Regions from separate parts of the Homo sapiens genome. Here region 2 is linked to region 1. Evidence: fine-mapped expression QTL. A gene starts in region 1. The other region holds a variant in brackets. All regions are shown on one strand. Distances are between the middles of the regions.

What was found. PIP is the estimated chance that this variant, and not a neighbour inherited with it, causes the effect.
Region 2: its variant is the best candidate, but not a certain one, in a credible set for the expression of RPRD2 in lung (TOPMed, PIP 0.61).

The regions. Positions count from the first base shown.
Region 1 is chr1:150,361,113-150,366,484 of GRCh38, reverse strand. It overlaps RPRD2 (regulation of nuclear pre-mRNA domain containing 2), which reads right to left and starts at 2,338. Exons shown (of 11, transcript NM_015203.5): 1 at 1,566-2,338. The coding sequence starts at 1,770. RefSeq lists enhancers at 778-1,067, 1,551-1,830, 2,581-2,890, 3,051-3,120, 3,101-4,043.
Region 2 is chr1:150,290,452-150,295,823 of GRCh38, reverse strand. MRPS21 (mitochondrial ribosomal protein S21) reads right to left here and starts at 1,963. Exons shown (of 3, transcript NM_031901.6): 1 at 1,926-1,963; 2 at 1,375-1,489. The coding sequence starts at 1,457. It overlaps LOC105371434 (a long non-coding RNA gene), which reads left to right and starts at 2,004. Exons shown (of 2, transcript XR_922129.4): 1 at 2,004-2,192; 2 at 2,327-2,524. RefSeq lists an enhancer at 1,616-1,675. The variant A/G (reference allele first, on the strand shown) is at 2,540.

The DNA of each region.
Region 1 (5,372 bases):
TTTTACCTCTGGGCAAGAAAATAACTCTTTGATCGGTTATTGGTAAACACAGGTAATTCTGTCCGGTATCTACTAATTTCTCTGCATTATTATTCAAAGAACCACAAAACATCCCTCCCAAAACTTTAAACACAAATAGTTCGAAGCATGGGGCCTATAATTTTGCAAGTTTTATCTATCTGTTCTCTAAAAGGTAAACAAATCAAAACACTACAGGAGCAATGGCAGAAGTGGAATAAGGCAGAATAACTGGATGATGGGTCTCACTGGTGAAATGCCGCAGGCAGGAAGCAAAGAAAAATTCTAATAGATGTATATGGAGTATGAGTTAACCCTCTCTTCTCAGCAGGAAACAGTAACTTCTCCACACTTCCTCCTATAAGATTTGAAACGTTCTGCAAACAATCCATGCTTTAACAGAGCTCGTTTCTGCAGTAAAGCAGCAAAATGGAAAAATCTCCAGGATAAAGACAAAAAAAACATAACTGGAGAAAAAGGTACTACATATTCAAAAAGCACATTTCCTGTGCACATTACCCATGAGATCAACTCAATTGTGTAAAAAGGTATTTCAGGTAATTAAAAAGTAACGGGGCCGGGCACGGGGGGCTCACGTCTGTAATCCCTGCACTTTGGGAGGCCGAGGCAGGTGGATCACCTGAGGTCGGGAGTTCGAGACCAGCCAGGCCACAATGATGAAACCCCGTCTCTACTAAAAATACAAATAATTAGCCGGACATGGTGGCGGGCGCCTGTAATCCCGACTACTCGCGAGGCTGAGACAGGAGAATCGCTTGAACCCGGGAGGTGGAGGTTGCAGTGAGCCGAGATCGCGCCACTGCACTCCAGCCTGGGCGACAAGAGCAAAACTCCGTCTCAAAAAAAAAGAGGAACTGGACACGCTTTATATTTGAAGGTATTAACGATGATACTGACTACTGTATCGCAGTTGTTTCTGGTCAGTATCCAAGAAACCTGTATTTTATTGCAGCAAACACAGGTACAGGGAAAACCCGGTGGTGCCTCAGATCTATGTAGAGCTCATGCTGCTTCTTAACATTCATCCAGGTAAGGCTCTCCTTACTACACATCACAAGTTTTAGATACATTCATCCAGACAAGGCACTCCTCATTAAACATCACTGGATTTACTACTGCTTAAAACCACAGCTCGCCTACCATCAGGAAAGCCAGAAATCATTAACACGTCAAGGCCTGTAAGAAATAAACAGACGCTACAATTTCCGCGAAGGTTCGGAAAAATCAATACACCTTACAAGGCTCTGAAATATTAAAAACAATATACGTAAATCTCCATGGATCTGGGCCCAACGGCCCAAGGTCACAACAATTCAATGGCTAAAAAACCCAAGAAATGAGTCTCCTGCAATTCAGGACAATCCTGGCTAGGAATGGAGTCTGGGTTTGGGACCACTGGGGTCAAACCTTTAATGTGAACAACCCCAACCAAATGCTGCGGCTCCGTGGGAAAACCCCAAGCGTTTCAGGCCACACTTCCTTCCATTTCCCCAGTCTTCCCTTCCCTAGTCACCCCCAACACTCACATCTCCGGAGCCACTTCATCCAATGATAGACGATAGTACTGTGGTGTTTTTTGTTCTCTATACACCAAGACGACAAGCCTTGAATGGACTCCATGGTGTTGGTTACCGACTGGAATTTTCGATCCAACGAGGACTCCAGAGCCCCTGCCGAAGAGGCCGACGAGGAGGAGGCCTTACTGCTGCCTCCGCCGCCGCCGGCCGCCATCTTCCCGGTTTGCACAAGCGCTGCTGCTCCTCTGGCGGCGGCGGCGGCGGCGGCGGCGGGAGCGGGCAAAACAATCACTGCGAGTGCGTGAAAGCCGTAGGTGGGGAGGGAAGCTAGGGGGTGGGGATGGTGCACGCGCTGGGCTCTTCTGGAGGTACGGACGGGAACACCAGCTGCTGGGCACGCTGGCAGCTCCTACACGCTGCAAGGAGGGGCTGCGGGTCTCGGAGGTTTTATCAATATTGTTCAAGGGGTCGTGTTTAAACCAGTCAGTAATCACGGAAAAATTACGCAGAAAACAGGACCTGCAAAGCCTTTCAAAACGCCTGACGCCGAAACTAATCGTTTTATACTTTTCGGCTCTCAGTGCTAAGGCCCTTCCCCGCCCCTGTTCCCACACTCCTGTGAGCCAGGTCGGGCGTTAATATCTTAAATGTAATACTACCCGACTGCCCCTTCAGTTGCAGAAATCTTTCTTTCCTTTAGACTCGCTAGCACAGAAAAGGTCCAAGGCTACCTAGTCAGGATTTTTTTTGCAACGCAATAGCAGCAAAGGGGCAGCAACAGTATCGCGCACGCGCCACTTGGCCCCACCCCCCTACCCCTGCTTCCTTCTCAACCTTGAAAGCAGAGGGAGGCGTGATGGCGGGGCAACCTGACCAATCAGGAGTGGAGAACCACAAGCGCGCGCAGGAGCTCTGAAGCCCCCAGGGCCCAGGAGGCGCTACGATTATTTTTGCGCCTGCGCAGAAGATAAGCGTGTAACGGGATGGAAGGAAAAACTGGGAGGGATGGGTGAGGGAGCTGGTATAACTAAGGTTAGCCGGGTGGGGGGGTTCCCCTGCCCCGCCCTTTGCTGCTTTTGGCCGCTCTCTTGGGTGTGTTCAGCTCACACAACAGAGACAGAAAATTCCCACCACTGAGACCACTGTTAGTCTTCAGGGGGCTGCAGCCATCGCCCCCAACTCCTCGGAGGAGCAACGCGCGACAAAATGGCTGGCAGCCATCTTGCGGCACCACAAAAGATGCGCATGCGCCAGATCCAGTGAGCCATTCACTACGCAGACTCCGACACCAAACCGTATTTATTGCTGCCCATAGAAGATAACATTCACAGCCGCTTGACCATTTAGGTTACAGGAAAAGGAAATAAATGAGGAAGTGAAAGGAAATTTTCCTCATAAAATTTTTCGAGGCGAAAAAAGAATGGCAAGATGTGACCTCATTTTCGCCAGCTATGATACAATCTTAAAATTGCATAATACATTACAGTTTTCAAGAGTCTTACGTAACTATTATATGAACCTTATACGAACCATTTTATCGCAGGTATCTATGTAAATCCTCTGAGCTAATTTAAAGGCTCCTGTGTTCCCACTAAACATATACAGTTTTAATTCTTTTAACGTCTCCTCACTGCGGCCATGCCTCTTGAGGCAGGGAACCTGTTTTGTCAAGTTCATGTCCACTATTCATTAATTCAACGAGTTGTTGAACCTCTTGTGCCAAGTACTGTTTTAGATCATGGGGAGCAAAACAGACAAAAATCCGTTCCCTCCGGGATTTAGTGGCAGGACACCACCAACAAGTACATTTCAGACAGTATTAAATTCTGTAAAAAGGTGAAGCAGGGTAAGGGAGAAAGGGGTGTGTGTGTGTGCGCGCGTGTGTGTACGTGTGCACGGCACGCACGCGCCAGTATAAGAATGGTGGTATGGTGAACCAGGAAGTCTTCTCGAAAGAAATAACTCGATCTGAACATTGAGAAAAAAGCAACCAAGCAGATATGCGAGACGGGGAGCGGAACATGCTGGCATTAGGAACAGCAAGTGCAAAGGCTCTAAAATACAGTCTCGCTCTGTCCCTGCCAAGGCTAGAGTGCAGTGGCACTATCATATCGCACAGCAGCCTCAATCCCCCAGACTCAAGTGGTCCTCCTGCCTCAGCAGCACAAGTAGCTGGGACTACAGGCCTGCACCACCACACCTAGCTAAAAAAACAAAACAACAACAACAACATTTTTTTGAGAGGGGGAGTCTCCCTATGTTGCCCAGGCTGGTCTCAAACTCCTAGCCTCAAGCAGTCCTCCTGCTTTCAGCCTCCCGAAGTGCTGGGATTATAAGCTTGAGCCGCCATGCCTGGTCCTGACCCCACATTTTTTTTTTTTCTGTAACTCTAGCCAAAGACCCACTTTTTTATAGACTATTTTTAGAGCAGTTTTAGATTCACGGCAATTGTGTGGAAAGCACAAGGAATTCCATATACCACCTGCCCCCACACATGAATACCCTCCCCCATTATCAATGTCACGCACCAGAACGATACATCTGTTACAACTGACAAACCTACACTGACACATTATCACCCAAAGCCCATAGTTTACATTAGGGTTCGCTCTTGGTGTTATACCTTGAGTTTGGACAAATGTGCATGTATCCACCATTACAGTATCATACAGAGCAGTATCACTGCTCTAAAAACCTCTGTGTTCCACCTATTCATCCTTCCCTCCCCCTTATTCCCCTAGCGACTACTAATCTTTTTACTGTCTTCATAGTTTTGCCTTTTCCCGAATGTCATATAGGTGAAATCATTCAGTATGTAGCCTTTTCAGACTGGCTTTTTTCACTTAATAATATGCATTTCAGGCGGGGCACGGTGGCTCATGCCTGTAATCCCAGCACTTTGGGAGGCCGAGGTGGGTGGATCACGAGGTCAGGAGTTCGAGACCAGCCTGGCCAACATAGTGAAACCCCCGTCTCTACTAAAAATACAAAAATTAGCCGTGCATGGTGGCGCACGCCTGTAGTCCCAGCTACTCCGGAGGGTGAGGCAGGAGAATCACTTGAACCTGGGAGGCGGAGGTTGCAGTGAGCCAAGATCAGGCCACTGCACTCCAGCCTGGGCAACAGAATGAGATTCCACCTCAAAAAAAAAAAAAATGCATTTCAGTTTCTTCCATGTCTTTTCATGGCTTGATAGCTCATTTCATTTTAGTGCTGAATAATATTTCACTGTCCAGATGTGCCAGTTTTATTTATCCATTCACCTGAAGGACATCTTGGTTGCTTCCACATTTTTGCAAGTATGAATAAAGCTGTTACAAACATCTCTGTACAGCTTTTGGGGTGAATATATTTTCAACTCCTTGGGTAAACACGAAGGAGCACAATTGTTACATCATATGGTAAGAATATGTTTACTTTTGTAAGAAATCATCAACCTAAGGCCGGGCGCGGTGGCTCATGCCTGTAATCCCAGCACTTTGGGAGGCCGAGGCCGGTGGATCGCCCGAGGTCAAGAGTTAGAAACTGGCCAGCCTGACCAACATGGTGAAACCCCATCTCTACTAAAAATACAGGGCCAGGTGCGGTGGCTCACACCTGTAATCCCAGCACTTTGGGAGGCCAAGTGGGGTGGATCACAAGGTCAAGAATTAAAGACCAGCCTGACCAATGTGGCGAAACCCCCTCTCTACTAAAATTACAAAAAATTAGCCGGGCGCAGTGGCACATGCCTGTAATCCCAGCTACTCAGGAGGCTGAGGCAGGAGAATTGCTTGAACCTGGGCAGCGGAGGTTGCAGTGAGCCAAGGTCGCGCC
Region 2 (5,372 bases), 71 kb after region 1:
AACTTGTAAGCTTTCCCATCTTTCTTTTTTTCCCTTTCTTCTTAATATTTTTAGAAATGGGGTCTTGCTATGTTTACCAGATTGGTCTTGAACTCTTGGCAACAAGCAATCCTCCCCACTAGGCTTCCCAAAGTGCTAGGATTACAGGTGTGAGTCATCCCACCCAGTGAGCTTTCCCATCTTTTGCCTGCTTCTCTAGGATGCCAATCTGAATTCACCTTTTCCTTTAGCTTTGTCCCACACCAATCACTCCCTCAGCTTTCTATTTATCATACTACGTTCCCGCTTCCTAGCAACTTCACATCTTGATTTTCCATTTGGGCTCTTTTTTAAGTCTTCTAAAGAATTCAGGTTCCTCATAAAAGGAGTCATTACGCTTGGGCAACATGGCGAGACTCCCTCTGTACAGAAAATACAAAAATTAACTGCGGTGGTGGCGTGCGTCACTAGACCCAGCTAGTCAGGAGACTGAGGCAGGAGGATTGTTGAGTGACACAGCAAGACCCTGTCTCAATTTTTAAAAAGCGGGGCCGGGCGCTGTGGCTTACGCCTGTAATCCTAGCACTTTGGGAGGCAGAGGCAGGCAGATCACTTGAGGTCAGGAGATCAAGACCATCCTGGCCAACACGGTGAAACCCCATCTCTACTATAAATACAAAAATTAACCGGGCGTGGTGGCGGGAGCCTGTAGTACTGGCTGCTCAGGAGGCTGAGGCAGGAGAATGGCGTGAACCCAGGAAGCGGAGCTTGCAGTGAGCCGAGATCGTGCCGCTGCACTCCAGCCTGGGTGACAGAGCGAGACTCTGCCTCAAAAAAAAAAAAAAAAATTAAAATTAAAATTAAAAGCGGGGAGGTGCGGGGGGTGATTACTTGTTGAATACAATTCATACAGTTAGGTTTGAGGAAGAACTTTTTTTCTTTTTTTTTGAGATAGAGTCTCACTCTTGCCCAGGCTGGAGTGCAAGTGGCTCGATCTTGGCTCACTACAACCTCTGCCTCCCGGGTTCAAGCGATTCTCCTGCCTCAGCTCTCGAGTAGCTGAGATTACAGGCGTTTGCCACCACGCCCGGCTAATTTTTGTATTTTTAGTAGAGACACGGTTTCACCATGTTGGCCAGGCTGGTCTGAAACTCCTGACCGCATGTGATCCACCCGCCTCGGCCTCCCAAAGTGCTGGGATTACAGGCGTGAGCCACCGCGCCCGGCCCAGAACTTCATTTTTAAGATAATAAACTGAGGGGCTGAGACGTTTTAAGAGACTGTGAACACCTGGGCTGGCACTGTTTTGAGAACAATCAACGAAAGGGGAAGGGAGAGAATAACCACCGCACTTCCCAGAGAGTCTAGGCATGATTCTGGTCCCTTAACAGTTACCTGTTTAGGGTCCTGTATGCGCTTTCCACGTTCCCTTCCTGTACCATCACAGTCCTGGCGATGAACTTCAGATGTTTTGCCATGACCTTGGATTTAAACCTTCACTCTGTAGAGCCTAAAGGATGATGGAGAAAGGGCGAGGAAAGCAGAAAGAGAAACGCAACATAATACAAACTACACCGCGCGGCTTATTTAGGATTTGGAAATTCAACATGCTCAGGGACGCGCGAGATGGAGCACATGGAAGTCATCCTAGAAAGTAGACGTGAATCGTTGTCTCTTATTCTCACTGCCAGTCCAAATCCTCGCATAGAGAAGAAAAGAGATGGCAGCAGGGCGTTACCACAAAGACGCGTCGCCGGGCATGAGAAGGACACGAGCGACAAGGATGCGCCACAGGGTCCCAACCACCACACATAGTTCCAAAAGGGGTTGAGTTGGGAGTTGGGGAAGGACTCTTTGTTGGTCTTTGGAAAAGGGGGCGAAAGCCCGCAAACCTGCCCTCTCGCCAAGCCAGCCTTCCTTTCCCCAAACCCTGCACAACTCCTCACCTCGCGCGCTCAGTACCTAGCCCACCGGAAGGGTTCTCACTACCGGAAGCGGAAATTACGGAATCGCCAGCGCCGCGCAAAGAAACAGGCCGAGGGAGACAACGTGCGTGGAAACCATAGCAACGTCCTTTCTGGCCTCTGTTGACTGCCTCTCTTCCCCGGGCCTGGACTCTACACCTGACAAAGCAAAATACTCATTGACTTAAATTCCCCCGAAACACGTTTCTCGCCCTCTCATGGAGTCGAAGTCCTTCGGCCTCTGAGAAGGTCAGCCCAATTTCATACCCCTTAATCCTGTGAAATCCTTGATAAATATTTGAGCCATTTCTCTTTCTCGATGGAAAACAAGAGAAGTAGGCGCTTCCTGAGGATGCTTCCTGTTTTCTCTTTGGAAAGGACAGACTCTTTGAGATCTGCTCTCCGGACGAAAAATAGATTGATTCATACACGTCATCTGCCTAAGTGCTAAGGAAAAGAAATAAACATACTGTGAGTTTCCTATATCATCTTCCCACTAATTTAACTACATAAAGTGAAATCAATAAAGATATATGGGAAACACCTGCAGGGTTTAGAATAAAAAATTATGTCAGCTTCTATGCCTTTTCGTGCTA[A/G]TGAGACCTACTGAAAAACCTCCTTTTAAATTTCTTCTTCGCTGTGGAGACACCCGTCCTCCTATTTGTATGCTACCTGTACATATCCATTTATGGTTATTCACGTAAGTTAACATCTAATGGCTGTAGGAAAACGTACCTCCCTTAGAGAGAGAGTGCGCGCGCACGCTCACGCACACACACACACACACAGACACAGACACAGACGTGTGCATCATCAGTTGATGCTAATAACTTACACTAACACTTAAGCCCACCTCAGAGTAAGCCAGGTCCAAAGTAACGAAATAGAACTAGATTGGGACATTATTATGCTTGTCAACAAACTTTCACTGAATGACTACTCTGTGTCAGATACTGTTGATACCACTCTAGTGCCTCCTGGACCACTAGGACCACATAAAAGATACTAAAACAAAGTAGTATATAATAAATGCAAAATAAATTATATGGGCTGGACGCGGTGGCTCACACCTGTAATCCCAGCACTTTGGGAGGCCAAGGCAGGCGGATCACTTGAGCCCAGAAGTTCGAGACCAGCCTGGGCAACAAAGCAAAACTCCGTCTTTACAAAAAATATAGAAATTAGCCGGGTGTAGTGGCATGGCCTGTTGTCCTAGCTACTTGGGAGGCTGAGGGGGAGGATCACCTGAGCCTGGAAGGTCAAGGCTGCAGCGAGCTTTGATCACACCACTGCACCCTGGCCTGGGCAATAGAGTGAGACCCTGTCTCAAAAAATTAAAAATGAATAAATAAATAAATAGGGCCAGGCGCGGTGGCGCACGCCTGTAATCCCAGCACTTTGGGAGGCTGAGGCGGGTAGATCACCTGAGGTCAGGAGTTTGAGACCAGCCTGGCCAACATGGTGAAACCCTGTCTCTACTAAAAATACAAAATTAGCCAGGCGTGGTGCCACATGCCTGTAATCCCAGCTGCTTGGGAGGCTGAGGCAGGAGAATCACATGAACCTGGGAGGCGGAGGTGGCAGTGAGCCGAGATCGCACCATTGCACTCCAGCCTGGGCAACAAGAGTGAAACTCCATTTCAAAAAATAAATAAACAAACAAATAATAAATAAAATATGCCACAGCATAATGTGGTGAAAGGCACTGGCTTCAAAGTTGGGAGATCTGGATTCTATCCCAATTCTAATACTCATCAGGCCTATGACCTTGAAGAAGTCATTTAAAACCAGGGGTCTGGAGACTACAGTTTACAGGTCAAATCCTGCTCCACCTGTTTTTGTAAATAAGGCTGTTGACCTACAGTCATGCTTATTTGACTGTGTGTTATGTATGGCTGCTTTGGGCTACGATGGCCGAATTGGGTAGTTGCAATAGAGACATAAAGCCTACAAAGCCTAAAATATTTACTATCTGGCCCTTGCCAGACTCACTCTATTTCCTCATCTCTAAAATGGGACTAATTTTGCCCTGTTCAGTCTCACGAAATTTGTCATGGGAATCAAATAGAATAAAATATGAAGATATGCCGGGCACGGTGGCTCACGCCTGTAATCCCAGCACTTTGGGAGGCTGAGGCGGGTGGATCACGAGGTCAGGAGATCGAGACCATCCTGGCTAACACAGTGAAACCCCGTCTCTACTAAAAATACAAAAGATCAGCTGGGCGTGGCGGCGCTCGCCTGTAGTCTCAGCTACTTGGGAGGCTGAGGCAAGAGAATCACTTGAACCCTGGAGGTGGAGGTTGCAGTGAGCTGAGATGGTGCCACTGCACTCCAGCCTGGGTGACAGAGCGAGACTCTGTCTCCAAAAAAAAAAAAAAAAAAAAGAGAAAAAAAATATGAAGATACTTTGAAAGAAAGGAAGGGAGACAGGAACTGATGTTAATAAGTTCTGTTAACCACTACCATTGGATCAGCTGGAGAGTAACATTTTTGAGAGCCTACTATATACTAAACCCTGTACTAGGTGGGTGTTTTTTATTTTTGTTTTTGTTTTTCTGAAACAGAGTCTCACTCTTGTTGCCCAGGCTAGAATGCAGTGGCACCATCATAGCTCACTGTAGCCTGGACCTCCTGAGCTCAGGTGATCCTTCCACCTCAGCCTCCCGAGTAGCTGGGATTACAGGGACATGCCACTACGCCTAGCTAATTTTTTGTATTTTTAGTAGAGACTAATTTTTTGTATTTTTAATAGTTTCACTATGTTGTCCAGGCTGGTCTCCCAAAGTGCTAGGATTACAAGTGTGAGCCACCCCACCAGGCCCCAAACCCTGCACTAGGTATTTTATGTACATGATTCCATTTAATGGAGTAAACGGCCAAACACTGAGTGTATAGATCATGTTTAACAGAAAGAATGATAGGATGGACTTGAGTTAGTCGTTGAAAGAGGGCAGGGTTTAGATAACAGAAGCAGGAAAGGTTTGGCAAGGTGAACAGCATGAACAAGAGCTTAGGGGCAAAAAGGTGTAGTGTTCAGGAGTCAAAACAAAACAAAACAAAAACCTGCAACAGAGAGATCATGCAGGGGAGCACAGGGAAAAATAGAGACTGTGACTAAAGATTTTGGACTTTCTTCTCAAAGCATTCGAGAGCCATTGAAGAATTTGAATAGGATATGATATGCAAAGCACTGTTCTAGGAAAATTAACTTGGTTATCAGCGAAAAGGGATTAGAAGAGAGACTACTGGTACAGTGAAGTCTAGACCAGACTGGTGGCAATGGAATGGATAGGAAGAAATGGATTTTAAGAGATATTCCAAATAAAGAATAAAAAGGATCTGGTGACCAGATGGCACCAAATTTTAAGCCTAGTTATCCAGGAAAAAACAAAACAAAACAAAAAACTATGGTACTTAGTGATACCA